Regions from separate parts of the Homo sapiens genome. Here all the other regions are reported to be linked to region 3. Evidence: microRNA targets listed by miRTarBase, many of them from high-throughput screens and not tested one by one. Region 3 holds a microRNA gene; each other region holds the end of a gene's coding sequence.
What was found. Region 3 holds the annotated microRNA hsa-miR-5700 (UAAUGCAUUAAAUUAUUGAAGG, at 5,636-5,657, shown strand). A microRNA usually pairs through its seed, bases 2 to 8, with sites in the 3' UTR of a target mRNA and lowers its output. Matches are read on the target gene's strand: a 7mer-m8 pairs with bases 2 to 8, a 7mer-A1 pairs with bases 2 to 7 and ends in A, and an 8mer does both.

Region 1: the mRNA of ZFR is a reported target of hsa-miR-5700. Seed matches in the 3' UTR shown: 7mer-A1 at 9,308-9,314.
Region 2: miRTarBase lists TRUB1 as a target of hsa-miR-5700. Seed matches in the 3' UTR shown: 8mer at 6,906-6,913 and 8mer at 5,612-5,619.

Annotation. Positions count from the first base shown.
Region 1 is chr5:32,345,779-32,356,512 of GRCh38, forward strand. It overlaps ZFR (zinc finger RNA binding protein), which reads right to left. Exons shown (of 20, transcript NM_016107.5): 20 at 8,572-10,161. The coding sequence ends at 9,982. Among named protein-coding and RNA genes, the nearest start is that of MTMR12, 38 kb to the left of the region's middle.
Region 2 is chr10:114,971,692-114,982,455 of GRCh38, reverse strand. It overlaps TRUB1 (TruB pseudouridine synthase family member 1), which reads right to left. Exons shown (of 8, transcript NM_139169.5): 6 at 10,182-10,321; 7 at 8,071-8,127; 8 at 4,780-7,333. The coding sequence ends at 7,077. Among named protein-coding and RNA genes, the nearest start is that of LINC02626, 18 kb to the left of the region's middle.
Region 3 is chr12:94,556,159-94,566,922 of GRCh38, forward strand. MIR5700 (microRNA 5700) reads left to right here and starts at 5,631; the gene lies at 5,631-5,701. RefSeq lists enhancers at 4,633-5,259, 5,059-5,168, 7,209-7,278.

The DNA of each region.
Region 1 (10,734 bases), not on the chromosome of region 3:
TCTATATATATATTTTTTGAGACTGAGTCTCGCTGTGTCAGCCAGGCCCAGGCTGGAGTGCAGTGGCGTGATCTCTGCTCACTGCAAGCTCCGCCTCCCGGGTTCACGCCATTCTCCTGCCTCAGCCTCCCGAGTAGCTGGGACTACAGGTGCCTGCCACCACGCCTGGCTAATTTTTTGTATTTTTAGTAGAGATGGGGTTTCACCGTGTTAGCCAGGATGGTCTTGATCTCCTGACCTCATGATCTGCCTGCTTCAGCCTCCCAAAGTGCTGGGATTATAGGCATGAGCCACTGCACCCACCCCAAGTAAAATATTTTAAGAAGGCATGGGAATGTGGGGTTTTTTTTTTTGCTTAAAGGGTTAAATGATTGTTTCAAGTTAGGATAAATCTGAAGGTTTGTGAAAAATTAATGTTTTTTTTTGTTTTTTGTTTTTTGTTTGTTTGTTTTTTGAGACAGAGTTTCACTCTTGTTGCCCAGGCTGGAGTACAATGGCGTGATCTTGGCTCACCGCAACCTCTGCCTCCCGGGTTCAAGAGATTCTCCTGTCTCAGCCTCCTGAGTAGCTGGGATTACAGGTGCCCACCGCCACGCCCAGCTAATTTTTTTCTATTTTTAGTAAAGACGGGGTTTTGCCATGTTGGCCAAGCTAGTCTCGAACTCCTGACCTCAGTTGATCCGCCTGCCTCGGCCTCCCAAAGTGCTGGGATTACAGGCATGAGCCCCTGCACCCAGCCAAGGTTTTATTAAGAATTGGGTTTAACATTAATAGTACATTAATGCAAAGCTGAAACTGGTTTATTTGGTATAAAAATCATATAGGAAGCATTGCCAAATATGAAATGGTGGCTTTCTTTGCACTATATTTGTATAAATACATTATTGGTATGTGTTCCAAAATTATGGGAAACTCCTATAATTCTGATATGACATAGTGTATGTTATTAATAATTATAATTGTTATGTAAAATTATTGTGTACCATAGAGGTAACCAAAATTCCTAATCCATTGTGGCTTAAATAATGGCTGGTCTAAGAGTTTTTGTCATCCACAGACTATTGTTGTTTTGTTTTAATCCTCTTCAAAAGGTGGTGTATAATTAGCTGTAGGACTTTGACAAGTGCTGTTGAATGCAGGTTCCTGACAACTTTGAAGACTGTTACACTAGAATAGAGGAAAAAACTTTCAGGACTCTCATGGAGAGTTGAAATGTTCATGAATATCAACAGGAGTTAACTTCAAGGACTGAACTAATGGAAGACTGAAGTAATCTTTTTTGACCTTTTGCTTAAAATATTGCTAATCCTTTGTTTTGTTTTTCGGAGTCAAGACAACTTTTCTTTTGAGCTATTTACAGCTTTTAACAATTGAGTAAAGTATATTCCCATGAACAAAATTTGGAGTATATTTGTTTTCTCTCTACCTGATTTATCTTTTCAAAAAAGCTTATTTTTGCAAGCAAATCGGTCTTAGTATGATTTGTCTTTAGTAAAAATGGAAGACTGGAAAGAGAAAAAAATCAGGTTTCAAGAACAATGGTACACCTGTGATTAGATTCTAGTCTCATCAGTATTTTTTAAGTTTTTTTTTATTCTGCAATTTAGACCGACTGCTTATTCCTGTGAACCAACCAGTGATCTTTGGCTACAGCTTAGAAGAAACAAGAGAGATGGATGGGTACTGTGAAAAAAGTCTGGATAAGTATTCTAATTCTAGGCACATATTGGAATCAGCTGGCAACCCTGTATCAGCTTGGTTCCAACAGTTGCCCAGTTCATGGAAAGTCTTCTATTTAGTTTACTTGGGATAATTTTACTTATTTTGCTTTACTGTTGTGGAATATATTGCTGTTGTACTCTTTGTGTAGGAATGCAGGATAAGCTTACTGAATGTTTTCTTAAATTGAACACTTATTAATCTTCTAGATATTACCTTTTGTTGGAACTCAAAGTTATGAATGGCCCTCACCATACTGATGCTTTCTTACTGAGTGCCTCTCTACCACAAATACAAGAGACCCTAATTTGTTAACCAGGAATATCATTGCCCTTACTCACCCTGAAGAAGTTACAGAAGATGGATCTTTGTCCCTCTAGAACTCAGGATTAAGGGTTTTCTTATAAAAGGCAGGGGGAAAATATGTCAGAGGCATTCAAACCAGAGCAACTCCATCTTGAATAGAAGCTGGGTAAAATAAGGCTATGGGCCTATGGGCCTGCATTTTCAGGAGGTTAGGTATTTGTAGTCACAGGAAGAGATAGGAGGTTGGCACAAGATACAGGTAACAAAGACTTTGCTGATAAAACAGCATGCAGTAAAGAAGCTGGCCAAATCCTACCAAAACAAAGATGGTGATGAAAGTGACCTTTGGTCATCCTCACTGCTCATTATACATTAATTATAATGCATTAACGTGCTTAAAGACACTCCTACCAGCACCATGACAGTTTACAAATGCCATGGCAATGTCAGGAAGTTGCCCTACATGGTCTAAAAATGGGAGAAACCCTCAGTTCCAGGAATTGCCCACCCCTTTCCCAGAAAACTCATAAATAATCCACCCTTTGTTTAGCATATAATCAAGAAGTAACAATAAGTATAAGCAGTTGAGCAGCCCAGGCTGCTGCTCTGCCTATGGAGTAGCCATTCTTTATCCCTTTACTTTCCTAATAAACTTGTTTTCACCTTACTCTATGGACTTGCCCTGAATTCTTTCTCATGTGAGATCCAAGAAATTGGGACCCCTTTCCAGTAACAATACAATTAGAAATTTTGTCATCTAGAAATATCTTATTTTCCTTTTAGCTCATCTATGTTTTCTTCTTCTTCAACTCCCAATGCCCTTTCTTCTACCTCTTTCTCTTAGTCCAGAGAGCAGACAGGATGACAGGCAGGCTACTCCAACGTGACTGAGATTTTCAGAAGGTAATGGATTTGGTCTCTCCAATGAAAGGATGGATTTTCTTAAGGCTGTAGCTTGCTTAAATTTCAGGCCTTCTTCCTGATATTTCTTTTGAAAAAAATCAGTGAAGAAAGTGCAAGTGTTTCTCTGTGGCTGTCTGTTACATTAAGTAGAGGAGCATTAAATATCCTAATGTATAGGAAATACCTGATTACAGAATTTAAAAATTTAGAATGGAAAATAACTAGAGATTGTTCCCAAACTTAACAGATACGGTTCCATGTTAAAGTTGGAAGAATACATAGGTAAAATGTCTGGGGTCTGAGATATAATAAAATCAAATGCCAACAGGGCTAGCCTGGTAGACAAATAGGAAATGATGGAGGCTGTGGTAAACTGTTCAGAACAGGTTATGTCTAAAATTTATCTTCTAAAGGGAGTGGCCCCTACTCTCAGCTTTAGCTAATTGTTACCATGTAGAAACACAAGCCCTGTGTCATCAAGTTTTCTCATTTTTCTTTTTCTTTTTTTGAGATGGAGTCTTGCTCTGTTGCCCAGGCTGGAGTGCAGTGGCATGATCTTGGCTCACTGCAACCTCCACCTCCTAGGTTCAAGAGATTCTCTTCCCTCAGCATCCCAAGTAGCTGGGCCTACAGGCATGCACCACCACACTGGCTAAGTTTTGTATTTTCAGTAGAGACAGGGTTTCACCATGTTGGCCAGGCTGTTCTCGAACTCCTGACCTCAGGTGATCTGCCCACTGGGGCCTCCCAAAGTGTTGGCATTACAGGCGTGAGCCACTGTACTCAGCCTGAACTCTTAATCTTCATGTATTTTTAGAGTAATCAGTTCCTACAATCAATTTAATCTTTTCATACTTTTATTCCGTATTTGATTAAATTTTATGAAATTTAATCAATTTCATACTTTTATTCCATAGGTTGCTTCCTTTTTTTAGAAAAAGGCTTTCACATTAGGTTTGTTGCTAAACTGAATAGTCCTTTCCAAACTAAAGACCCAATTTCTTTAATATTAAATAGCATGTCTCACTTGGGATTATATTAGAATGAGGTGAATATATTAGCTTTGTATTTAACATAGAATCAGCTTAATTAATGTTAAAAAATATTTTTCAGGCCAGGCGCGGTGGTTCACACCTGTAATCCCAGCACTTCGGGAGGCCAAGGCCGGCAGATCACTTGAGGTCAGGAAATGGAGAGCAGCTTAGACAACATGGTGAAACTCTGTCTCTACTAAAAATACAAAAATTAGCCAGGTGTGGTGGCACTTGCCTGTAATTCCAGCTACTCGGGAGGCTGAAGCAGAATGGCTTGAACCTGGGAGGTAGAGGTTGCAGGGAGCCATGATTGTGCCACTGCACTCCAGCTTGGGGGACAGAGCAAAACTCTGTCTCAAAAAAAAAAAAAAAAAAAAAAAATTCAGGCTTTAAGTTAGTAATATAACTGTTTCATATTTCCAGATTTTATTTTACACCCAATATTATTACACTAAGCAAGATAAAGGAAGACTAAAATTACCGAGACTACAGGTAATCAATAAAATTCACCGGGGCCTGTTGTGGGGTGGGGGGAGGGGGGAGGGATAGCATTAGGAGATATACCTAATGTTAAATGACGAGTTAATGGGTGCAGCACACCAACATGGCACATGTATATATATGTAACAAACCTGCATGTTGTGCACATGTACCGTAAAACTTGAAGTATCAAAAAAAAATTCCTTAGGGAATGGGGATATTACGATTTGCTTAATATTCCGATTAACATACTGATAACTATATATACACGATTTGGCTGATGACAAAATACACTTAATACTAAATTTAAAATATAGTTTAGTTTTGCATTGTATAGTACATTATGGTCACTGCTATAAAGCATTTATTAAAGCATGATCCACAATTTGTATCAGAACCATGTACATTTTTTGTTTGTTTGTTTTAGACGGAGTCTCGCCCTGTTGCCCAGGCTGGAGTGCAGTGGTGCGATCTTGGCTCACTGCAACCTCCACCTCCTGGGTTCAAGTGATTCTCCTGCCTCAGCTTTCCGAGTAGCTGGCATTACTGGTGCGCGCCACCATGCCTGGCTAATTTTTCTATCTTTAGTAGAGATGGGGTTTCACCATGTTGGTCAGGCTGGTCTCGAACTCCTGACCTCGTGACCTGCCCGCCTCAGCCTCCCAAACTGTTGGGATTACAAGCGTGAGCCACCGCTCCCTGGCTTTTTTTTTTTTTTTTTTTTTGAGACAGAGTCTTGCTGTCACCCAGGCTGGAGTGCAGTGGCACGATCTTGGCTTACTGCAAGCTCCACTTCCTGGGTTCACACCGTTCTCCTGCCTCAGCCTCCCGAGTAGCTGGGATTACAGGCTCCCACCACCATGCCTGGCTAATTTTTGTATTTTTAGTAGAGAGGGGGTTTCATCATATTGGCCAGACTGGTCTCAAACTCCTGACCTCAGGAGACCCACCTGCCTCAGTTTCCCAAAGTGTTGATTATAGGCATCAGCCACCGTGCCCAGCTTTTTTTTTTTTTTTTGAGATGGATTTTTGCTCGTCACCCAGGCTGGAGTGCAATGGCGTAGTCTCCCAGATAAAATTTAAGAAAAACAAAAAATCTAATTTGGAATGATCCTATAGTGATTGTTAAAAATGCAGTTTCTCTATGTGTACTGATACATAATAACCTCCAAGACTCCAAGATACCTTAAATAAAAAGCAGCAAGGTGTAGATCATACACGGTATGCTATCATTTTTGTAAAGAACAAACACGATGCATCCATTCATGCTAACACATACAGTGATCATCTGTGGAAGGACACACAAAGAGCTGACACTATCTCTTGGAAGGGAAGTAACATAATTGGAAGGCAAGGTAAAGGAGAATACTTGTTTTATGCTATGTATCACTTTATACCTGTCAACTTTTTTTATATCATGTGTATGAACCACCCATTCAAGTAAATTACCTAATATAAAGTCATCTTAAATTGCAGATTCTCAGGCTTTTCTGGCCTATCTCAATAAGAATCTTTGCAGTTAGGATTTAGAACTCTTAACTTTTTAGAACAGGGTTTTGCCACGTTGCCCAGGCTAGTCTTGAACTCCTGGGCTCAAGGAATCTGCCTGCCTTGGCCTCCCAAACTGTTAGGATTACAGACATGAGCCACCATGCCTGGCCGGAAATCTTAACTTTTAGAATGTTCCTCAGATGACTCATGAACAGTCAAGTTTCAGACCACTGCTATGAACATTATCATCTTTGTATGACCTATATTCGTCCTTTTTTTTGTTGTTTTTTTTGAGACGGAGTTTTGCTCTTGTTGCCCAGGCTGGAGTGCAATGGCATGATCTCAGCTCACTGCAACCTCCGCCTCTTGGTTTTAAGCCATTCTCCTGCCTCAGCCTCCTGAGTAGCTGGGATTACAGGTGTGCACCACCACGCCCGGCTAATTTTTTGTATCTTTAGTAGAGACGGGGTTTCACCATGGCCAGGCTGGACTTGAACTTCTGACCTCAGGTGATCTGCCCGCCTCGGCCTCCTAGAGTGCTGGGATTACAGGCGTGAGCCACTGTGCCTGGCCAGTATTTGTCCTTTACTGGGAAATTTTTTTTTTAATAAAACGGCTCTGTCAAATTCAAAAAATGGTGGCTCCTCTAAAGGAACTGCTTATAAATTCATAACATAATAATGTAATGACCATGCAAAAACAAGACTTCTGCTTTTTTTCAGTAAGCAGAAAAATTATTTACAATATTGTTGACTTAAAAAAATCAGGCCAGCCTGTAATCCCAGCACTTTGGAAGAACAAGGCAGGTGGATCACTTGAGGCCAGGAGTTCACAAGGCCAGCCTGGCCAACATGGCAAAACCCTGTCACTATTAAAAATACAAAAATTAGCTGGGCGTGGTGGTGCACGTCTGTAATACCAGCTACTCGGGAGGCCGAGGCACGAGAATTACTTGAACCTGAAAGGCAGAGGTTGCAGTGAGCCAAGATAGCGCCACTGAACTCCAGCCTGGGTGACAACAGCGAGACTGTCTCAAACAACAACAAAAAAATCAGGCCAGGTGTGGTGGCTCATGCCTGTAAACCCAGTGCTTTAGGAGGCCGAGGTGGGTAAGGACTGCTTGAGACCACAAGTTTGAGACCAGCCTGGGCAATACAGCAAGGCCTCCATCTCTACAAAAAAAGAGCTGGGTGTAGTGACGCACACCTCTAGACCTAGCTACTTGAGAGGCTTAAGCGGGAGAATTGCTTAAGCTCAGGGGTTCGAGGCTGCTGTGACTATGATCGTGCTACTGCACCCCAGCCTGGGGGACAGAGCGTGACCCTGTCTCAAAAAGCAAAACAACCAAACAAAAGAACTGTCAGAGGATACTAAGGAATATTCAATCCAAGTTACTCTTTCATATAACTAATGTGGGTCTAGCCACAGCTATGAAAACAAGCTATGTAGAAAATACAGAAATAATTGTTTTAGTAAAAAACTTAAATGGTACCAATTGCATTTTTGGATGAAGACACTCAAACCAAATGCAAAATTTTGGTCCCAGATGGGCTGAAAACATCTTTAGTACATAATTGGAGGGTGAAGGAAGCAGCCTGGCAAAGTGCTGACCATGAACTTTGAAACTGTCACTTAAACAGTGACATAAGGTGTATAATCTTCATTTAGCCATTCTGGGCTCGTTTCCTCATCGAAAAAATATGATGTATACTACCTACAATTCACTTACGATAGTTTTAAATGGGAAAGTACATAAAAAGACCTAGCATGGCGCCCAGAATCAACGTGTAGTAAAGGTCAGTTCCCCTCCTTTTTTTTTTAAAGACAGGCTCTCACTCTGTCACTCAGGCTGGAGTGCAGTGGTGTGATCTCACTGCAGCCTTGACCTCCCAGGCTCAAGCAATCCTCCTGCCTCAGCCTCCCGAGTAGCTGAGACTACAGGCACGTTCTACCATGCTCAGCCAATATTTTTGTATTTTTAGTAAAGACGGGGTTTCGTCATGTTGCCCAGGCTGGTCTCAAACTCCTAAGCTCAAGCAGATCTGCCTGCCTCGGGCTCCAAAAGTGTTAGGATTACAGGCGTGAGCCATTGTGCCAGGCCAGCATTCTTCCAAGAGAATTGTTGAGGAACGAAATTCTAAAGGAGAGTAAAATGAGGCCCAGAGAAATTTACAAAGGGAAAAAAAGCCTTGTCCAAGTTAAACAGACAGTACAGGTTGAGCATATCTTAGCTGAAATGCTTGGGACCAGAAGTGTTTTGGATTGTGGAATATTTCTATCAGTTGAGTATCCCTAATCTGAAAATCTGAAATGGTCCAATGAGCATTTCCTTTGAATGTCATGTAGGCCCTCAAAAAGTTTCAGATTTTGACAATTTTCAGATTTTTAGATTAGATAATCTGTGTGTGATGAATCTGGGAGAAAAGTCTGAGTCTCCTGTTCTATTTCCCCTGTGGTCTCCTACAGTTTCCTGGCCCTCTAAGACTTTGGGGGAAGATTCTGACCCTCTAAGACTTTGGGGGTAGATTCTGACCCTAGAAAGAAATTAAGCCAATATAGTATTGAATTACAAAATTTTCTGAAAATTATGTGCTTAGACAACAAACATTTGTCAGGAATAACAAGATGCAGTACTCAATAAATTTGAATATGATTTTACTGAAGCATACATCATTTCAAAGCAAAAGTAGTTTATGTTGTCAATTCTAACATATAATACATTTAAGTCATTATATGAATTTCATTTTTTGTGTATTTCACTGTAGTGCTGTGACAACAAAATGACATCTGTGTACCAGAGCATACATATATCAACAGTAAGATGTAATTTTTCATTACATCACTGCTAGAATATTTAGCTTTGTGTAGGAGACATAAGCAGGTAAGATGGCCACACCAAATAATTTTCTGTTTTTTTCCTTAGATAATTTTTTATCAGTAATACTTTATCAACCTCACTGTTAACAGAACTGTAAATTATCTGGGTGATGGGGTGTGTGGAGAAGATCATCTGTGTTATACTGTAATAGTTGCTAGAGTAATCTCACACACACCAATAAGGAACTGTCACCATAATTAAGGGCTAGTTACTGTTGTTAGTTGTACAATGATGAAGTTCTTTTGAAAATATTGGTTAGCCCACTTATATGTGAAAAATGCCCTTTCCACTTATACACAAGAAAAAAATATTCAGAAAGTTATTTTTGGCCTTGCTATGTCAAAAAGTCAACTGTACAAAGATCTACGTGTTAAACCTAAAATTATGATTTTAAAAGTCTATTAAAAACAAGAATGTCATGCATTTTTATTATCAATTATGCAGAGGCTTTAAAACTGTTGCAAGACCATATAGTATATATTAGCTTTTATACTGCTAATGCACAACTAACAGCAAACTTGATTAGATTAACAGAACTCTGTCTTAATTACACCTTTATATATCACACTAGAGACAAATGCCACAAGATCTGCAGAAACATTCAGTTCTGAGCACTCGAATGGCAGGATAACTTTTTGTGTTGTAATCCTTCACATATAGAAAAACAAACTCTGCAGTCTCACGTTACAAAAAAACGTACTGCTGTAAAATATTAAGAAGGGGTAAAGGATACCATCTATAACAAAGTAACTTACAACTAGTGTCAAAAAGCAAACAAAACCTCTAAATTAAAATATCAAAATACACAGAGCAACTGAAGCACACATCCTGCATTAAATACAGTGAAGATTTAATAAGACAATGCACTAGTTAATAAAAGACACAAAAATAGGGGGGGAAGCTAGGGCAACCAGAAAATAAAATAAAAATAATGGGAAAAAATCGGAACTACTGTTTTCCCCCTAGTCGGAGCACATTTTTTTTTTTGGGTGTCTTTCCATTCAAATAATACCTAACACTGTACATTTTTTAATATCATAGAAAAACTTGGTTCTTCCATGAAATCCTTTAAATTCTTGATAAATTTTTCAATGTAGACATTATTATGAATGAAAAACAGCCAACAAATGGGCATCTGTTTTTTTAACACTGAAGATTTACAGACACTTTTTAAAAGTTATCATAATCTTTTTTGTCTTTTTTCCCCTCAGCTTCAAATCCATCAACTCCATCACTATCTCTTCTTCGTTTCCTGTTGTTGTGGATGTTAAAACGTTGGCTCATTTGCGGTAATGGATCCATGCCTAGAACTTTGTGTATCTGGCGGAATGCAAGGAGTCTCAATGCAAACTGCAACAAAGAGAGTCAGAATTTTGAGTTAATTGAAAAACCCCAAGTAGTAATACTTACTACATTTACCTCCCTCCAAATGCAACCTAAAAAAGCATGTGTAATGAAAGAAACATTTAAAGGAATTACTTTCACAACTGAAATAATCTGTATGTTCTCATGTTTTTATTTCCTAGCTTTTCTGTGTGCATGCCATTTTGTTATCTTAAACATTAAGTAAAAAAAAAACCAAAAAACTTTAACACACACACAAAATTACAAAAATTATGAGAAGTGACATCAAAGAAACAAGCAGGATGTTGAAAACAAAGAAAAATGGGAGCTACCTGCTTTAACAGAATGGTTGCTGATGGCTTTCCTAGGCATTTGGTAGACAGTATGTAACTTAAGAACTGTAATTATACTCATGTGGATGTACCAAACTTATTTACCTAATTTTCTACTGGTAAACACTAGGCTGGTTTCAGTATTTTTGTTTTGTTTTGTTTTTTGAGACAGAGTCTCGCTCTGTTGCCCAGGCTGGAGTGCAGTGGTGCGAGCTTGGCTCACTGCAAGCTCCGCCTCCCGGGTTCA
Region 2 (10,764 bases), not on the chromosome of region 3:
AGTAGACCAAAAACAGAAAACAAAACAAAGCAAAACAAACCCCATTAAGGCTATGGAAGACCTGAATAACACAAGCAACAAGCTTGACCTAATTGATATTTACAGAATGATCCACCCAACAACCATGAAAGCACATTCTTAACCAATGTACATGGAACAAATTCCAAGGTAGACCATTTCTGAGTCACTAAACAAGTCTTAATAAATTTGTAAGAATGGAAATCACACATTTTATGTTCATGTATTTTATATTCTCTCACCACAATGAAATTAAACAAGACATCAACTAGAGAATTTTATATAGAAAATCCTCTAATATCCAGAAAGTAAATGATATACTTCTAAGTAATAGGTAAAGTGAAATATCACAATGGAAATTATTTTAAATTGAATCACAGCTTATAATAACTCATGAGATGCCGCTAAAGCAGTGCTCAAAGAAAAACTGATAAGATTTAATGCTTAAGTTTAAAAAGAAGTGACCTAAGCCTCTACTTTAAAACTAGAAAAAGAGCAAGTTAAACCTCAAGCTGGCTCAATGAACTATACACTTAAAATGGTGAATTTTGTTGCATATAAATGTGACTTTTTAAAAATTCCTTTAAAAAATAATTGAACTTATACTAAGGAAATTCACCAGGGTCCAAAACAAAGAACGATCTGAAACCCAGAGTGGTAAACATACTTCTTGATGCTACAGCAATCCAGGTAGTGGGGGAGGGAGGCAAGATTTACTCCTCTCTGTAACCAAAGTGTTTGCCTTTTAAGTGGGGATGGAAACCAAGTGTGGATCTTGAGAGGCAGGTTTTGGAACTGTGACACCCACAAACATAGGCATAAAACTGGTACCCTTAAAGGACTATACATTTAATAAAATGGTAGACTACAATGCAATTTACCATAAACACAGGGCGAAAACAAGGAAGCTTTTCTTTGACTTAGGCTTTAAATTAAACAAAACACAACACAACAATAATAAAACATCTCTGCAATGATCATTTACGATGAGGATTTTGGAACAGCGATATCTCTGGTGTGCCTAGCAGAAACAATCCCAAAATCTCTCTGGAAGGACACTCTCAACCCAAGCACACACACTCCCATAAAGTCTCACTGAATTACCTCATAATCCAAGTTTACAACACAAAGAACACAAGGTAGGACACAATCTACCTTGGCTGAGAATTGGGAGATTCAACAAGCAATATTAGAGCATACTCCATAAGAATTTCAGATAACTGAGTTAACAGAGACTGTTAGACTAGACAATAAGACTAAATAGACTAGTAGACTACATAGAAAATTAGACTAAAAAATACACATAACTAAAAACCCTAAGAAATCAGAGAAAAGTTCATTAAAACCATATTGTGATAAAGTAAACATGTGCCTAAATGGTTAAGAAGAAAACGTAAAATACTTTGTGGTGATAAGGATGTGGAACCATCAGAATTCCCATATGCTGCTGGTACAGCAACTTAGAAAAACTCCTTGCACTATCTACTAAAGCTTAACGTGTATACTTTACAACCTAGATTCCAGTCTTAGAAATATCCATCAGAGGCCAGTCGCAGTAGCTCACGCCTGTTATCCCAGCATTTCGGGAGGCTGAGGCAGGCAAATCACTTGAGGTCAGGAGTTTGAGACCAGCCTGGCCAATATGGTGAAACCCTGTCTCTACTAAAAATACAAAAAAATTAGCTGGGTATAGTGGTGTGTGCCTCTATTTCCAGCTACTCAGGAGACTGAGGCATGATAATTGCTTGAACCTGGGAGGCAGAGGTTGCAGTGAGCCGAGATGGCACCACTGCACTCCAGCCTGGGTGACAAAGCGAGACTCCGTCTCAAAAAAAAAAAAAAAAAAAAAAAAAAAAAAATTCCAACAGAAATGTGTGCATGTTTACCAGGAGACAAGTATTACATTGCTCATAGAGGCATTATTCAAAATAGTCAAAATTGAAAGCTAACCAAGTGTCCATCATTCAGTAAAATAGATCAACAGTGGTAATAACTGAATAATAGTAAACAATGACAATGAACAGTAAGTGGGGCCTTTGGGAGGTAATTAAATTTAGACAAGGTCATGAGATTGGAGCCACTATGATGGGGTTAACGTCCCTATAAGAGGAGGAAGAAAGACAAAAGCCTCCTCTCTCAGCCACGTGAGGACACAATGAGAAGGTAGCCCTCTCCAAGCCAGTGAGACAGCCCTCACAACAACCCAACCACACTGACACCCTGATCTCAGACTTCCAGCCTCCAGTACTGTGAGAAACAAGTATGTTAAAGTCACCCAGTCTATGACATTTTGTCATAGCAGCCCAAGCTAAGACAGCCACAATATGGAAGAACCTCATGATTGTAGCTTTGTGCAAAAGAAGCCAGACATAAAAGAAAACATATCACATACTTCTATTTATATGAAGCACAAAAACAGACAAAATTACTAATCTATATTGTTACATGAAATACTAATCTATAATCTTGATGGAGCAGTAGGGGCTTCTGGAGGGCTTAGTGATGTTCTGTTTCTTGACTTGGTTGCTGATTATAGACATGTTTGGTTTGTGAAAATTCACTAAGCTATACAGTTATGTGTGACTTTCTGTATATTAAATACCAAAGTAAAAAAAATATTTTTTTTACTAAAACCTTAATGAAAGACTAAGACAACACATGAAAAAAGAAGAGGCAGATTTTGGAGGAAAAAAACCTGGTGTAGAAATAAAAACAAAAGGCCGGGGCACAGTGACTCATGTCTGTAATCCTAACACTTTGGGAGGCCGAGGAGAGAGGATCACCTGAGGTCAGGAGTTTAAGACCAGCCTGGCCAACATGGTGAAACCTCGTCTCTACTAAAAATAAAAAATAAAAAAATTAGCTGGCCATGGTGATGCACGTCTGTAATCCCAGCTACTCAGGAGGCTGAGGCAGGAGAATCACTTGAACCTGGGAGGCGGAGGTTGCAGTGAGCCAAGATTGCGCCACTGCACTCCAGCCTGGACAACAGAGTGAGACTCTGTGTCAAAATAAATAAATAAATAAAAATAAAACACAAGAGTGATTGGAATAAATATATGATTGTTAAACAGTAAATAAAAATAGAAAAAGGCATTCATTATCTGGAAAAAAGATTGGAGGAAATTCCCCAGTATGCAGCACAGTGGGATAAAGAGATGGAAAATATGAAAGAGTAATTAGACACAGAATAAAACAAAAAGACTTAAATAGGATTACTAGCTGGAAGAGATGAAATATCCAAAGAAATGAAGGATGGGAATTCCCCAGAACTGATAAATATAAAAGTTCAAGTTCATGAGGAATGAGTTCCTAAGCAAAATAATCACAAATTATCTACACTTGGAAGCCTAATATTTTAGCATTGGAGAGATTCTTCAAGATGGACTAGTCTGTCTCCTTTGTTGTAAGGATAAGGAAACTTGAGACCTAAAGAGATTAAGTGATTCACCTAGGATCAAAAAGTTGACTAACGGTAAAGACAGAAATAAAGTTAATATGCTGCATTTTAAGGGTTAAGGATAAGAAGAGCAAAATAATTCCCGAACTTCAACTTTCCGGCCGGTATCAGTATTTATAGCAGCAATCTGAAGATATTCCTATTCATAAAGAGAATTTAGCTCACACATTAACAAATGAAGGTACTACTGATTCAACACCTTAATAAATGTGCTTAATAAATAGTATTTAATGAAGAATTAGGACAATCTAGAGCTCTGCCCATACATACCTTAGAGAAAGAAATGGTTTCAAGACAATCCCTCTCTTTAAATTTAACTACAAGGCCATTATACTCATTTCAGTGCATAAACCTCATATCTATTATCGTTTCCTCTATTTAAATGTTTTGGCATTTTACAGTGCTTTTGAATCACATCTCTTTCTATTGTATACATCATGATATAAGGTAAATTACTTACTTTCTTTGAAACAGAACAATTCACCATCTAATTGAACCTCAAAATGTTCATTGTAAATCTGATACAAATTTCAAACTGGTCAGGGGACATAAAATGTACTGAAGATCTGATACAAAGCACTCTTATTTAATACAGTAACTCATTTCTGATGATGAGTCAATGGCTTGTTTTAATTCAAGTATTTAAGAAAAAAATATCTAGTCAGTACAGGTAGAGGAAACTGTGTTTAGCCTTTATTCACATTTCAAAACTTTGAATTTGCAAAGAGCAAATTTCTATTACATAAAGGTCCTGGATTTTAAGACTATAAATAAAATAATTCTATGACTTTTAACAACTTTTAAGACATTATTTTTCAAATATAAAAAACTTAAAGTGTCAAAATGAAGTGATTTGGTATGTTCCAGGTTGAAACATTTTCAGGATTTTTTAAATCTTTTATCGTTTTCTTACAAGTAAAACAACTTTATCATGTCATGAAGGTTTAGACCTAGAAAAATATAAGACACAGAAATTTCTTGAATATTTTGATAAAAATGAAAAAAAAACTGAGTTGGTATTTAAATACCAGACTATCAGGGAAAACTAATTTGTTTTATGAATGAGTCTTGAACTTTTCAGAGTATCTCAGTTTCAACTGCTTATGAGAGTTAGTAAGATTTTAAAGTCTCAATAAATTTAAAATTTTTCATACTTATTAATCTGACAATGATAAAAGGGGAAGAGTTATTAGAATTAGCAAATTTAGTTAGCAAAAATGAAAATTAAAACTAAAAGGACAACAGACCGTGAAAAATCCTTCTATCAGGTATTTACAACACAAATAACTCATGCAAATATGTATAGAAACCATTAAGACATTTATTTATATAAATGAACAAAGTATACAGATAAATCACATAAAAGCAAATCAGAAAAACTTTGATTTCTCTCCTATGTTTACTAAATTAGCAACAACATATAAAACCCCTACTCAAATGGTAACACTGTAAAATGTTACAACTCTTTGGGAATGCAATAAGGCAAACATAAGTCATAAAGTTCTTCATATTATTTCACTAAATAATCCCCCTCCCAGGAATTTATCATAATAAAATTTAAAACTACTTAAGTATTCAGCAATAGAGAAATACTCTAAATAAATTAAGAGTATAAAGTAATATAATTAAAATAATCATTATCACAACTACATACATATAGATAATATCAAATGAAAAAGTCAATTTAAAAGTATAGGTGCCTTAAGACTATGTGAACAACAAAAAGGAAAATAGTAATATAAAAATTTAAATTCTAAAGTTACTACATTAAGATGGTAGAGGTAACAGTAATTTTCCCATTTGGCAAAACTTCAGTTTTAAACATAAAAGAAAAAGAGTGGCTATCGTTTTTTAAAAATGGTCAACAATCTCTACTCCTCTATTAGTAAACTCTGTGTCAATTTTTAAGGTGAAAAATACAGCAGAAATACCTCTGATGTGTTCTAAAACCTAAGTATTTCTCTATTTGGACTTTAATTTGCAATGGAAGAGGACATATTGTAACCTGTACCAGTCCAACAGGCAGATGTAGCCACTGCCACCTTTGGTTGACACACACTGTGGGGCACTAGATATGAACAGGTAAAACTGTAAATTTTCATTTTATGACTTTGTGTGTTTGATATTTTATGTTAATGCATCATGGTATTAACACTCTTTTTCCTTACAGTTTTGTCTCATACTAAGAATTGTTTTAGTGTTTTCATTTAAAATATGTTGCCAATATGTTGAAAATGCTGTACTGATGCATATATAACATTTTACATTGAGTTTAAATTGGGTTAAGCACAAATAAAACCACTTTAGTTTACATATTTTAAATTTCAGAGTTAGAGACTACAAAGCAGGAAAACACCTTTAAAAAGAAAGGCAAAGCATAAACATCTAAAAACTTGTATTTTATGAAATTTCTCATGAGTCTTCCTTTTGAAACTGTATTTGAGTAAAGGAAGAGGGATCTGAATGTTTCTACAGACTGGCTGCATAATATATTGCTTTCCCATAACAAAAATATGAAGCACTCATTATATATGAAGTTTACTATTACAATGTGGCTACATTTAAAAAATTATGGTAAAGAGGGATAGGGAACTTTCAGAAAGCTATCTGAATGAAAATGTTTGAGAAGAACTGTTTTTAAATATTTAGAGCAGAAGAGATTAGCTGGAAATGCAGGGCAGCCATCTCAACATCTGTAAGTATCTCTTGAAAGAGCAAACTAAAGAGACAATGTCACAGGGAACACCCTACAGAGAAATATAAATAAATGCTAAAGAATAAAGTTTTTAGTTGAAGACACATTCTTTAAATTTTAAAAATTATGTTACTTAATAACTTGGTACAAAGTGCTTGACCATGTTGACATTACCATGAAAATATCTCATAGCTGCCAAAATACAAAACTATAGGAGCTGTCTTCTGCTCTAATGGTAGGAAGGTGACTTTAATTAAGTATTAGTCTTCTATTTACAACCTGTTAGTGGTAGCAGTAATAATTTGGTTCATTTACAAATATTATCAAAGCTTATTCATTTCCAAGATCTAAACAAACACAGGTATTACTAGATGATGGCCATTTTATCAAAGAAATGTTTTTAATAATAAACTCTCCAAAACAGAAGAAAGAGATCAATAATGGCCACTTTAAACAATTTAAAGAATTTCAATAAAATGAAGCCACCAGGAAGCCTAAATAAAGTAAAAATAACACTAAATTATGGTCATTTTTGTGAAACTAAAGAAACATGGAGCTCATACTTTTTTCTTTGATTAGGAAATTTGTTCAACTTTTTCACAAGACTGAAGACAGATCAAATTCAGAAAGTTAATTTTTCTGAATCCAATCATATTCATATTTTCACAATACAAAAAATCCTAAAACATTTCACAACACAACAAACAACTGAGCCAACTGCAAGGCCATTTATAATGCATAGAAAATAAATTATGTGCTATTGAAACTGTAAATGATAGACATTTTTCTTCATGCAAAAAAAAAAAAGACATATTGTTTGTCTTTTGAATGCAGCTTGTCATTCTGCATCTGCACACAGGATTCAAATGTCAACTAGAAAATGATGATATTCCCAGGCCAATCTCAACACGTCTTAATTACATCATCTTCTCTCTTTGGCTCATTTAGAGTTATATATTCACAGCTCAAAACCTGTTCATTAGACTCAGGTTTTGATTTTTTAAGTGCCAACTCTGCTGGGAAAAGAGATGAGCAATGCTCAAGAGACTGTGCAATGTCATCAATTGTCCATTTGTCTTCAGGAAGGGCATGTTCTTCTAGCGTAAATGGTCCCTGTTTGGTTCGGGTCAGCTCTAGCACATTGGCACAGGAAGATAGTTCTATGGCAACAAAAGGTAGAAAAAAAATCCAGAAGATAAACGATTCAGTATTTCATAGTCTGTAATTGTTCAAATGACCGTACTCAATTGAAATCTCTCAAAACCACCCAAAAGTATAATAATCCAATATAAGAACCAAGAGGCCTCAGATAAAGAAATGATTAAGTAGCAAAATAATACTTAATAATCCACCTTATAAGCTGCTTTAAAATCAACAAAGAACTTGCACACATTTTTGTTATTTAACTCATGCAGCCAACCCCATGGAGTAAAGATTAGCCGCACTTTACAGATGAGATCATATGACCTGTCCAGTGCGACAACTGCCAGTAAATGGCACAGCCAGAACCGAAACCTTCTGGCTGTTTATAAGACTACGGCTTCCAGTTTAAAAAAATTTGAAAATAACTTTTAGAAGGTTAAATCTTTTTTTTTTTTTGATCCCTAGTTTGAGTTAAAATCTTTTGTACTTGAAAAGATGTTGGCCCTACGTTCATTATTCCTGTCTTCGTTTTCTGTTCTCTCTTTCTCTTCTTTCCCATTACAAACATTTCACTGCAGCTGCTGAGGCTGATAATTGCAAGCCAGAAACCTACAATGCTTTTAAAGCTGAAGGCAGCAAGAGTTCAGTTCCTAAGGCCAGTACTCAGAAATAAGAAAAACGGAAAATTCCCTCTTCCAATTGAAAAGGAGTATTATTCTCTAAATGATAATTCATAATTCATTTTTATGCTTACCTTTTCCAATGTCACTGACCAAGCTTCTGATATAAAAACCTCCTCCACATTCAACATCTGGAATGTTAACAGTGACATAGTAAATTGCTAACCTCCTATGAAATCCACTTTACATAGAAATGATGTCCCTAAACAAATGTAAAAATGCACTATGCAAACAATTGAGTGATAAAATATTTATGCACTAAAACATAAATTATTCATCCAGTAGCATATGTGTTTGTGAGACTGAAAAGTCAGAGTGTGGAGAAAGCAAACAGCACAAACTCATGAACACATTTTAAATTAACTGGCAAGGCATACCACTTTAATACTTCAGCCTTGTTCATTTAATAGGTTTTAAATAGTTAGAAATCTCAGCTTTGCTATCATGAGCTTGAGATTTTAAAAAATATTTTCAGATTTATATGCCTTGTTCATTTAATAGGTTGTAAATGGTTAGAAATGGCAGCTTTGCCATCATGAGCGGTAGATTTTTAAAATATTTTCTGACTTGTACATTCAAAAAAAATACAACCAACCAACCAACCAACCAAAAACCCCTTTTCACAGTGACAAGAATTATGTTTAGGGTACCGTACTACACATGAAGAACTCAGTTTATTTAAATGTTCTCTTGGAAATACTCCTGAAGAAATCATAAAACAACTTAAAATTGCACAATGTCCCAGAACTGAATGTAAATCTAAATATCTTCTTAACACAATCTAACACAAGTTTATTGGTTAAGAACAGAGCTCTCCATTATTTTTATCCATCAGCAAGACTTCCTGAAAAGAGCTGCCACATTTCCACACAAAAGGACTATATTCTAGCTGCTTCGAGTCTTACTGGTACAAATAAAGCCATTTGGGGGAATTAATCAAAACTCACCACCTGGGGATTTTAATCACCCCCTGCTTTCTTTAGTCAGCTCATGGTTGGGGGCCACTGCTGAAATTGAAAGTGGGCACTGGGATGAAATGCAGGCGCGCTAGCACTCTTGCGTGATATTTGACTTGAGTGAAAAGACAGCTCTTTTGGCCCGTTACACTCTCCCTAGTCAATAAAATATTTCTGACTTAAATGCAATCTGAAAAATCTGAGTTTTTTCTTGCTTTCATAGAGAATATCTACTGTGTCAAACCAGCTGCTTCATTTCCATGGAATGGAGCACAACCTTCCTAAGTGTGTTTTTTTCATTATCTGTCAAATATTTTAGAAGCAGGAACATGAAGAAACAAAGTGACTTTTTTTTTCTAATGGTACAAAACCATATCCTGCAGAAACACAACACAGATAAAACAATAATGCCAATAAAAAAGCAATAGAGTTTAGATTAAAAGATTTGGGGACATTATTTCTAAACGGAATCCTATTCAGTGCACTGTGAAACTAAGGGTAGGCTCAATTTAAAGGAGTCTGAGGATTAAGAACCACGGCTTTGGATTCTTCACAGATCTTACATGTTTACAACTTTCTGCAGCCAGATCATAAAATTTCCAAACAACAGAAATGAACTTTTTAGTCTTTACATTTCAAATATATATTAGAAATTAAAATTCATAACTTGAATTAAAAATGTGACCATGTATTCAGGAATACATTTCTGCCTTACCCATGTTTTTCCATATTTGCAGGATCTTTAATAGTAAGTGATAGGTGGTGAAGAAGGGAGTGAGGGGTTTCTTGTCCAAAAACTAAAAATGCTTTGTTTTCATTGGAAAATTAATGTCAGTTCTAAAACGGAATGTATTAGGTACTAGCCAAAATGGGAGGAAAAGCATCCAAAAGATAATAAAAACCTAAAATTTAAAAAGTATATACACTCCTTACCTACTCTTCTCTATAGAGATCTAAAGTATGTTACTTTCAACTTTCTAGTAAGATAACATAGTACAATATATGAAAAAGTCAGCCCAGTTAGAAACGCATTTCTGAACCTCCATATAGCTACAGGTATCTCATTAAATGTGTTACCAAAAAAGGTATAAAGAAATCCTAACTTTCCTTAAATTCAAATTTTAAAAAATCTCCAACATCCTACGGATCTATTAAAATGACACAAAAGTAGCCAAATACAAATTAAAAATACACGTAAATACAAATGATTTCAAATTTCTCCATCTTACCTAATGTGAAAAATGGTGGCTGGAATTTTTGAAGGGAGATACTGTATACAGTCACTGGCCTGGCAGGTTTTGCTTCTACGACTTCACCTCTCTTCATCAAAGTCGAAAGTCTTTGTCCATCTTTCTTTAATGCAGAATAGCTTGTGAGATGAGAGAAGGAGAAATGGAAGGAAAGGAGAGCAAGAATTGAGAGGGATTTGGAAGGATTGGGAGATGATAATTTCAGATTTAGCATGGAAAGGAAGGATGACTGGCAGTGCTTCACAATGAAAATCCTTCTAAAAAATGAATGAATTTTTAATTCTAATCTACTCCATAATGCTGTCATGGATAGAGTTTCTAAATATTTCTAAGGCTGATATAACCTCATTCTGGCACACAATATGCAGTGTTACCAATTTTATTCTTTAATCATCTTTCTAGAGACAATGTATTCATGTCTTGTCCTTACTAGTCCTCATTCTGTGTTAAAAGGCACAAGGAATTTAGTAGACTCTGGTCATAATACTCTCAGCTATATTTCCTTGAAACAATCTCTACTATAATATTCATTTTTATATAAGTTACCAAAACATTTCTAAGA
Region 3 (10,764 bases):
CTTTACAGTGAAGGGGCCTAGAAGACACCTTAATTATCAAAGCAAAATCATCAATAATGGGACAAATGGAAACTGAGCTCTATGTGACAGGATGCAATGAGAACAGTATCATTTCTGTGATGTTCTGGCCAAAGATGGATAACTTGAGTTTAATCACAAAGAAACACCAGATTGTGGGACATTATACAAAATGACTGGCCTATAATCTTCAAAAGTGCCATGATCATGAAAGTCAAGGAAAGATGGGAGGAATTCTTTCATTCAGGAGACAAAAGAGATAACTAAAGGTAACCTGTAATTCTGAACTAGGTCATTTTGCTGCAAAGGCAATTATTGGGACAATTGGTGAAACTTGAGTGGGGTCTAAGGACTGGATGTCAGTAAGACATCTATTTACCTTCCTGATTCTGACAGCTGTATTATGGTTTTGAAGGAGAGCGTCTTTATCTGTAGGAATTACACGTTAGAGTAACTGCATGTGACCGGATATCAGGTTGGCAACTGATGGTTACTCTCAGGTGGTTCAGGAAAAATATAATTCTTTGTACAGAACATCCAACTTTTCACTAAGTTTATGATCAGTTCAAAATTTTTAAAAATTTAAACAAATAAATTGATTTACATATAGAACTGAACATCTCTAAATATATAGTAAACGTTATTACATATTATATTTTTATTTATGCATTAATAATGTATAAATATAAAGTACTAAAACCTGGGAGCAGATCTCAACTTCCTTATGCCCAATGGGAATCTTCAAGCCCCTGAAGTTCCAAAGAGGTTCCAAAGAGAGCGAGCCAGGCCTTGGGAGGCTGCATAACTATAACTGAAGGCTGGGTCCCTCTCTATACCTTCTGACCATCCTATTCTGAGAAGATGGCTTTCAAACATCCTAGAAAACTCAAAATCAGAAATTCTAAATTTCTAATATTCTGTCCCTGGGCTCTCTATTCTGTTCCATTGGTCTATCTGTCTGTTGTTACGGAAGGATCATGCTGTTTTGTTTACCACAGTTTTATATATATTTTGAAATCAGGTAATGTGATACCTCCAGCTTTCTTCTTTCTGTTCAAGATTGCTTTGACTATTTGTGGTCTTTTGGGATCCCATATATATTTCATAAGTGTTTTTTTATTTATGTGAAGAATGTCATAGATATTTTGATTGGTATTTCATTGAATCTGTAGATTGCTTTGAGTAGTATGGACATTTTAACAATAATAATTATTCCAATCCATGAACATGGGATATCTTTCCACTTATTTGTGTCTTGTTCAATCTCATTCATCAGTGGTTTCTAGTTTTCAGTGTACAGATCTTTCACCTCCTTAAGTTTATTCCCAAGTATTTTAATTTTTGGTAGCTATTGTAAATGGAATTTTCTTAATTTCTGTTTCAGATAATTTGCTGTTAGTGTACAGAAACACTGCTAATTGTATAGTGTTCTCATAAATCACTGAAATCCCAGAAATTCTGCTAATTCAGGATCCCAAAGGCATGCCACAGATTGTTTCATGTCCCTGGAAGTGACTTGATGGTTTGGCATCAGACAGAGGAGGGTTTGATTTCCAATTCTACCATTTCTGTACCATTTCTCACCCTTTCAGCACCATTGCCTCTTGTTCCTTCATGTGTCAAGTAAGAAGATGACAGTAGCTTCTTCTTAGGGCTGCAGTGTAGATGAAGTGAGATAATATGTAAAGCCCCTTAGCCCTCTGCCTGGAAAATGACATATTCCATGAAGAGGAACTTGTTCCCTTTATCATTTAGAAGTTCTTTGTAAGTCATATTTCCCTGTTTTGACTCCAGAAATGTGGTCATAATTTCAATAAAAGTGGAAAGTACCTAAAGTCAGCCTGGGCTGGGCTCTGAGGTGTGCTCTTTTTTTAGCCAGGGTGGACTTCAGACTCCAGCAAATTTTATGAGATTAGCTTTATAGCCCAGAGTTCCTCCTAGTGTGGGGTGAGGAGAGAATGGGAAGGGCATGGTGAGGTAAAGGTCAGTATCAGGGAAACTGAAGTCAAAGAAAGCTGTTCAGAAGTGGCAGCATTCTAGTTAGATATCTTTATCCCTTTGCATCGGGGGGGTTTTTGGAAGGTTGTAGTAAACCCAACCATAATCAACACTATTTATTGAACACCAGCTGTCTAGGTACGGCAGATAAGAAAAAGACACACTCCCAGTCCACCAAGTGCTCACAATCTAGGGGCAAAGGAAAATAGCCCCAGTAGATATCTTTTTTTTTTTTTTTTCTTTTTGAGATGGAGTCTCACAGTGTTGTCCAGGCTGGAGTGCAGTGGCACCATCCCAGCTCACTGCAACCTCTGTCTCCCAGGTTCAAGCGATTCTCCTGCCTCAGCCTCAAGAGTAGCTTGGATTATAGGTGCCTGCCACCACACCTGGCTAATTTTTTTTTTAAATAGAGATGGGGTTTCACCATGTTGGCCAGGTTGATCTCAAACTCCTGACCTCAAGTGATCCACTCGCCTTGGCCTCCCAAAGTGCTAGGATTACAGGTGTGAGCCACTGTGCCCAGCCAGATATTTCATTCTCACAGTACCTGGGCTGCTTTGCTCATTGCATTGATTAAACACCACCTACATATGTGCCTGACACTTGGCAAGGTCCTGTGGGAGGACGAGATGAGTGAAAGAGCAAGGGCATGCTCTGGTCACAAGGAACTCACTGTTTACTTCAGGAGCAGACATAAAAGAAACACTTCTCAATAACTAGGAAAAAGGTATTTAGACAGCATTTCTTTACAGAATACAGAGTCAGGAGGAGAAGAACATGAGGGCTTTGCAGAGCTGACATCTGAAAGGGTCTTGAAGGAGAAGAAATGTGATTGCAGGCAGAGGAGGTGTTTGTGTGTCACCTAAGGGCATGAAATAGCAAGGTGGGCTCAGGGCTTGAGGCGTAGAGCATGCAATGGGGGTGGGGGGTGGGAGATGAGGCTGGGGCATTGCATGGACTTCAGTACACTGGGAACCTAGTGGGCTTCACTCAGAAATTCAGACACGACCCTCTGGGCAAGAGAAGCCACTGAAAATTTTAAGAAGTGGAATAAGATGATCTGATTTGCATTTTAGATCACACAGGTAGTTTACATGGTGGATGCATTGGGTATGGGCAAAACTGAAGACCCGGGACCACATAGGAGACTGTTACAACTCTCCTGGGGGGAAATAATGGTGCCCTGAACCAAGGTAGGAAAGAGTAAGGTGGACAAGTTTTGGGTGTCTTTAGAAGGTAGAGTTTGACACGATTAGATGGCACTGGTTAGAAAGAGGGGGAATGGCTTTAAGATTTCTAGCTTGGGTGGGTGAATAAATGGATGGTGTTGGTGCCTTTATGGAATGAGGTAGTGTAGATAGAGCAGATTTGAAGTAAGGGCAAAAAAATGAGGTTGGTTTTATATTTTGAGGTGCTCTAAGGATGTCTATGTAGAGATGAAGGGGAAATAGAAATATGGTCTGTGGCTCAGAAAAGAGGCAGGTACTCACTACATAGAGGCAGTGGAATTAGTCTTAGAGATGATGGCTGAATCACGGGGAGTCTGTGCAAAGGGGGTGAGATGGAGATAATGCAGCCAAAGAAGACTAGAGGGTGGTCAAGAGGTGGCAAGAGAACCAGAGAGCGGCATCAAGGAAATACCCAACAGGCTGGGCGCAGTGACTCACGCCTGTAATCCCAGCACTTTGGGAGGCTGAGGTGGACAGATCACTTGAGGTCAGGAGTTCAAGACCAGCCTGGCCAACATGGCAAAACCCCATCTCTACTAAAAATACAGAAATTAGCGGGGCGTGGTGGCGCGCCTATAATCCCAGCCACTTGGGAGGCTGAGGCAGGAGAATTGTTTGAACCAGGGAGGCAGAGGCTGCAGTGAGCCCCACTGTACTCCAGCCTGGGTGACAGAGTTAGACTCCATCAAAAAAAAAAAAAAAAAGAGAGAGAAAGAAAGAGAGAAAGAGGGAGGGAGAGAGAGAGACAGAGAGAGAGAGAGACAGAGAGAAAGAAAGAAAGAGAGAGAAAGAAAGAAAGAAAGAAAGAAAGAAAGAAAGAAAGAAAGAAAGAAAGAAAGAAAGAAGAGAGAGAGAAAGAAAAAGAGAGAGAGAAAGAAAGGGAGAAAAGAAAGAAGATATCCAAGGGAAGCAAAATGTTTCAGATGGGAGGGAGCACCGCAAAGGGAAATGACTAGAAGTTTAGTAAAAACACAGGCTGTGAAGCATGCACCAGAAGTGCAAATGGGTCCTCGGTGACCCCATTGAGAGAAGTTTTAGGGGAGTGCTGGGGGCTGACACTAGTTTTTAGTGGATTAAGAAATCCTGGGAGAGAGGAGTAGAGACTATTCTTTTAAGAAACGTGATAGTGACAGGGAAGAGAAGGAATAGTGAGCTGAGGAAATGCAGGATCATAAAAGTGGGTTTAGGACAGCAGCAGCTGGACATCTGTGTATGCTGAAATGAACCCACTGGAAAACAGGTGCTGATGAAGGAGGTGCCGGCTCTCAGAAGAGGCAGGAGGCCCAGGTGGGAGTCTGTCTTGGACAGAGGCCTGGAGTGGTATGAAGGAGGGGTGAGCCGAGGGGAGAGCTGAGGCCTGATGAAGTGGGGACCCTAGCCCTCTGCAGAAGGGAAGCTATTCGGCAAGGGGGTGCCAGGGAAGGCAGCGGCTTCCTCAGCACTTGCTGCGGGAAGAAACACTGAAGTCCCAGGCTTCCAGGTAATGCTGTTTTCATCAGCAGAGCCCCGCTGGCCTGAGCTGGAATTCTGACTGAGCAGGTGACATGGGCAAGGGCCGGGGGTGAGGCACAGAGTCTGCTGCGGAAGCATCTGCGGGGTGCAGTAGCCAGTAGAGGCGGCCCCGTGTATGCCTCGGGGCTGGGCGTCCCGCAGAGGGGGTTACTCACTGCTGACTCAGCCCCAGGTGCTCATTTGCATGTTACTCATTTCAAGCCAAAAACACTGGAGCAGGAGTACAGGAGCATCTCATCCCCTTTCCAAACAGAACCACCCCAGGTCTTCCCAGCGCTCCTGCTGCTGTGCCGAGTCTCTCTGACCCAGAAATATTTCTACTTTGGAAGAGTCTACTAAGCTGTGCTGTATAGCTATCTGTGAAATTGAGCTGAAAAATTCAAAGAAACACTCAGAAAATTCATTTTCTCTGTAAGGATATCAAGGTAAGTTTAACATGCCAAGAGCCTGGGCCTTCCCCCTTCCAAATATTATCTTATTTTCACCTGACTTCTCCCCCACCAGAATGTAACCTCCAAGAGGATAGTAACATTGTTTTGTACTCTGTGCCCAGAACAGTGCACGGCATGTAGCAGGTGCTCAATAAATGGATTAAATTCTGTAATCCCAGCACTTTGGGAGGCCGAGGTGGGCAGATCACTTGAGGCCAGGAGTTTGAGACCAGCCTGGCCAACGTGGTGCAACCTCGTCTTTATTAAAAATACAAAAAATTAGCCGGGCATGGTGGTGCCTGCCTGTGGTCCCAGCTACTCAGGAGGCTGAGGCAGGAGAATAGCTTGAACCTGGGAGGCGGAGGTTGCATGAGCAGAGATTGTGCCACTGCACTCCAGCCTGGGCAACAGAGCGAGACTCTGTCTCACATAAATAAACTAATTAATTAATGCATTAAATTATTGAAGGCCCTTGGGCACCCCAGGCCTTCAATAATTTAATGCATTTATTGAGCATCTACGATCTCATCTAACCCCTATAATCCTAGGCAGTTAACAGTTTAGGAAGGGGAGATTCTCAGAGGTGAAACACCACCCCTCCCATCCCCTCATCCTCATTTAATCAAATTGCCAGTAAGGGGAAAGCCCCCGAGTTTCGAGCTGGGCTTCCCACATGTCATGGAGTTCAGAAATGCCTCTATCAGTTTATCAGGTGCTCACTCCTGTGAAACTGATTCATGCTAACGGATTCACTCTGACAAGAATATCCCCGAGAAGAGAAAGCGAATGTAGTGATTTACATTCAAGCATATACAGCTGCCAAGGAGCTGAAACGTTCTGCCCTGTCGGACAGCTCAGTCTGTCCCCAGTAGAAAGAGTTCACTGAGGCTGCCAAGCAGTCGCCAGCTTGGCTTGGAGCCTGCACAGAGTCGATAGCCTCAGGGAGGCCATGAACAAGCTCTGTGAACCAGAAACCCAGAAGACCGAGTGCAGCTGGCCAGGCAGGATCCCCGCCTGCTCTAGGGACACAGCTGCCACTCTCCAGCTCACCCAGAGAGCCAGCCACCGGCCCCCTGCAACCCTCTACCTTCTCTTTTGAGAATGATTGCTTATTGACTGAATGGGTCACCTCCATTCCCTCTCATTCATGGTTTCCATGGACTTTCCTTTTTCTTTTCTTTTTTTTTTTTTTTTTTTGAGACAGAGTCTCACTCTGTTGCCCAGGCTGGAGTGTAGTGGCGTGATCTTGGCTCACTGCAACCTCTTCCTCCCGGGTTCAAGCGATTCCCCCGCCTCAGCCTCTGGAGTAGCTGGGAATACAGGTGCGCGCCACCATGCCCAGTAATTTTTTGTTGTTGTTGTATATTTATTAGAGATGGAGTTTCATCATGTTGGCCAGGCTGGTCTCGAACTCCTGACCTCAAGTGATCCACCCGCCTCGGCCTCCCAAAGTGTTGGGATTACAGGCGTGAGCCACTGTGCCCGGCCTCCATGGATTTTCTTAGTCAATTGTTTGTTGTTGACAAGGCATAGCAGGAAGTCACCTTGCAATTCTGACCATGTTTGGGGACAGCCACCTTTCTGAATCCAAGCATGTCTTTGGGTCTCTGCTTGCTTAAGCCACTGTGTGTGGGGATGTATAAACTTCTACCTGTGGCCTAAGTTTTGGGGTCTTACAGTTCACTGTTCCCGGGAGCTACAAGACCTGGGCATCAAAACACAGAATAAATATGATGAAGGAAGAGAATTCAAAACCACTTTGGGAGGAAACCCCTGGTAGAAGGCTAGGCTAGCACTGTTGCTTGTGACATTGACAGTCCAAGAATCAGAGAAGGATCCAGGCCTCCAAGAGCTTCTTTGGCAAATGGGGTCCCTTACTGCTAGTACAGACCAGAAAGTACATGACTTTATTTTATTTCTACTACTCAGTGGCTTATTTTAAAGCACAACGGGAAAAAAAAAAAAAAGGAAAAGAGAAAAAAAGAAATCCAATTCTCAATGCCTAAGCCAGAGCGGAGTAACCACCAACAAAACAGCTGTTAACATGGCTGACGCATGTTCCTGTTAACTGCTTTAGTCAAGTTAAAGGCCTGGCAAGGGAGAGATTCTGGCTGGCTTAGCAAGGAGAGAGATTTCTGAGGTAGCCACCACAGATGGTAGCAGATGTCACGCAGCCTCAGAGCAGAAGCCACCAGAGACTTCACTGTCTTGGAGCTGAGCAAAAAAGCTGAGAAACACTCAGCCACGTCAACAGCCAATTACACACCTCAAGAATCTCAGGAAGCCAGGGAGTGTGTAAAAGTTTCTATAATTAATTGCTTTCCATTCTCTTTATCCACAAATCTGTCAGCTCATGGCTCTTCAAAAATCAAGGATGCTAGCTTCAGGTATCTCTGCCCTCACCTTGTATGGCCAGCAGCATGAAGATGGAAATGCACAATTTGTAACCACATTATTGATTGCTATAGTCCTAGGATTAAAAGTGATCCCTGACTGACAAGAAGCCAGTTGTTCAATTCCTTCTATTATAGTGTAGGGTAGCGGTCACCCGTAAAGGCTAGAGTCACACAAGCTTGGGGATCCCCCAGTACCTGCTGCCTGATGCTGCTCACTATTTTCCCTCTCTGAACCTCAGTTTCTTCATCTACGAAGCAGAAATAATAGTGCCTGTCTTGTTGGGTGTTGGAATGATTATATTTGATAGTGCAAGTAAAGCACCTGGCACAGTACATTGTACACAGTAAATGTCAAAGAATGCCAGGTATCATCCCAAATCTATGAATGCCCAGAAAGGTGCTGTTTGGTATTGCCATGTTCCTTACATGACCCACAAATTTCTACATCTCATAATCATACCTATTTAGAAAATAACTCTGTATGTGGGGCTGCAGATATTCATAGATTTAATTGCAAATTTTAAAAGGCTATTATTGTTATTAAGACTTTAAGTTACTTTGTCAAATGGTGACTATGGACCTCCTCAAATGTACAAGATAACTTCTTTTTTTTTTAATTCTTTTTTTTTTTTTTTTTTTTTTGAGATGGCAGGGGGGTTCTCACTATGTTGCCTAGGCTGGTCTTGAACTCCTGGGCTCAAGCAATCCTCCCACCTTGGCCTCCCAAAGTGCTGGGATTACAGGCATGAGCCACAGCACCCGGCCCAAAATAATTTCTTACATTAGAAATCCGGTGGGGCATGGCTGCTCATGCCTGTAATCCCAAAACTTTGGGAGGCCAAGGTGGGAGAATCACTTGAGCCCAGGAGTTCAAGACCAGCCTGCACAACAAAGTGAGATCCTGTCTATACAAAAAATAAAATAATTAGCTGGGTATGGTAGCACTCGCCTGTAGTCCCAGCTATTTGGGAGGCTGAGGCGGGAGGATCACTTGAGCCTGGGAGATGAAGGCTGCAATGAGCTATAATGGCACCACTGCACTCCAACCTGGGTAACAAAATGAGACCCTGTCTCAAAAAAGAAAAAATCCATACATTACTCAAAACTGGTAAATACTGCTTTATTCTATAGCACTATGCTTAATGAAGCTTGAAACCAACTAACATAACTTTTCCCCATTTCTTTTTTTTTTTTTTTTTTTTTTTCAGGGAAACACAGAATTGGTAAGGTGTTTTCCCTAATGCAACATTTAGGAATATGCTGGGCTGGACACATATTTCATTCAATCACTTCCATTGTCTGTATTCATCCTCAGACATCAAATGACAAAAGTGTGCAAAATAACAGTTGTTCCCCATAAGATTTCCAAATATTCAGCTATGCTCCATTTTCCAGGGCACAGAATGGGCTACTGTAGTTAAGAATTTTTCTATCATCTGAGAGTTCTAGTTAGTCTGTCTGTACAGGGTGAGTGACCAAAGTAGAAAACTGGTCAGGACATGAAGTGAAGAGGGCTAAAAAGGCAAGATGAGAAAAACAGAGTCGTGAATTCTTCACCAGCCAAGACCTCACGAAAGGCTCGTGTGTCTGGGCTTCCATCCCACCCGCTGATAGAGGCAGTCCCCTCTCAGCCGCGGCGCTGCTTCTGTGGTTTCAGTTACCCGCAGCCCACCAAGATCCAAATATAGCAAATGAAAAATTCCAGAAATAGGCCGGGCGCAGTGGCTCATGCCTGTAATCCCAGCACTTTGGGAGGCCAAGTCGGGTGGATCACCTGAGGTCAGGAGTTCAAGAGCAGCCTGGACAACATGGTGAAACCCCGTCTCTACTAAAAATACAAAAACTAGCCAGACGGAGAGGTGCATGCCAGTAATCCCAGCTACTTGGGAGGCTGAGGCAGGGGAACCGCTTGAACCCGGGACGCGGAGTTTGTAGTGAGCTGAAATCGCACCACTGCACTCCAGCCTGGGTGACAGAGTTGTCTCAAAAAAAAAAGAAAAGAAAAGAAAGGAAAAATTCCAGAAATAAACAATTGGTAAGTTTTCAACTGTGCGCCATTCTGATCTGGCAGTATCCTGTACTGTCGCAACTGGGACCTGAATCCTCCCTTTGTCCAGTGTATTTATACTGTAGACCAAGCTTGTCCAACCCACAGCCCATGGGATGCATGCGGCCCAGGACGGCTCTGAATGCAGCCCAATGCAAATTTGTAAACTTTCTTAACACATTATGAGGTTTTTTGTGATTTTGTTTTAGCTTATCAGCTGTCGTGTTAGTGTATTTTATGCGTGGCCCAAGACAATTCTTCTTCCAATATGGCCCCGGGAAGCCAAAGAATTGGACACCCCTGTAGACGCTTCCCGACTGTGAGTCACTTAGCAGCTGTCTTGGTTATAAGATCAACTGCTTCTGCTCAAGTAATTTTTATTTTACTTTACTACAGTACATGGTCATAATCACTCTATTTTATTATTAGTCATTAATCTCTTACTGTGCCTCATTTATAAACTTTATCATATGTATGTATAAGAAAAATGGTGTATACAGGGCTCAGTTCTATCTGAGGTTTCAGGCATCCCCTGAGGATAAAGGGGGAATATTGTAGGAATAGCGTTGGTATCTGTACTACTGGACTGGTTCATAGGAGTTCACACACTGTGAAATCAAGTGCATTGTAGACACCAAAGCCCCAGACAAACTGGAGACAGTGCACTAAACCGACTGCTGGAGTCAGGCGTCTGCTCCCTCCTGTGCTGCTGCCCTGTGCCCCCCCCGGATTGGCATTGCCCTTGGTGTCTCATTCCAGCTTATGAAGGCTGTGCTTTGTCCTCGCCATCACTTCCCCTTTTTCAACACAAGGACATGTTTGCTAGCATCTTAGCATGACTGTGAATAAACTACTCTTCCTTCTGCCGGGGCTCAAGCAATGGGCCACACATCACCAACTTCCTACGATATATAGAAGACTTGAGATTCATTTAAAAATTGACTACAGCGGGAGAGGAGGATGAATAGATGGAGCACAGGGGATTTTTAGGGAAGGGCAACTATTCTGTGTGATACTGTAATGGGGGATACATGTAGTCATACATTTGTCCAAACCCACAGAATGACAACACCATGAACCCTAAACTATGAACTTTGGATAATGATGTGTGTCAATGCAGGTTTATCAACTGT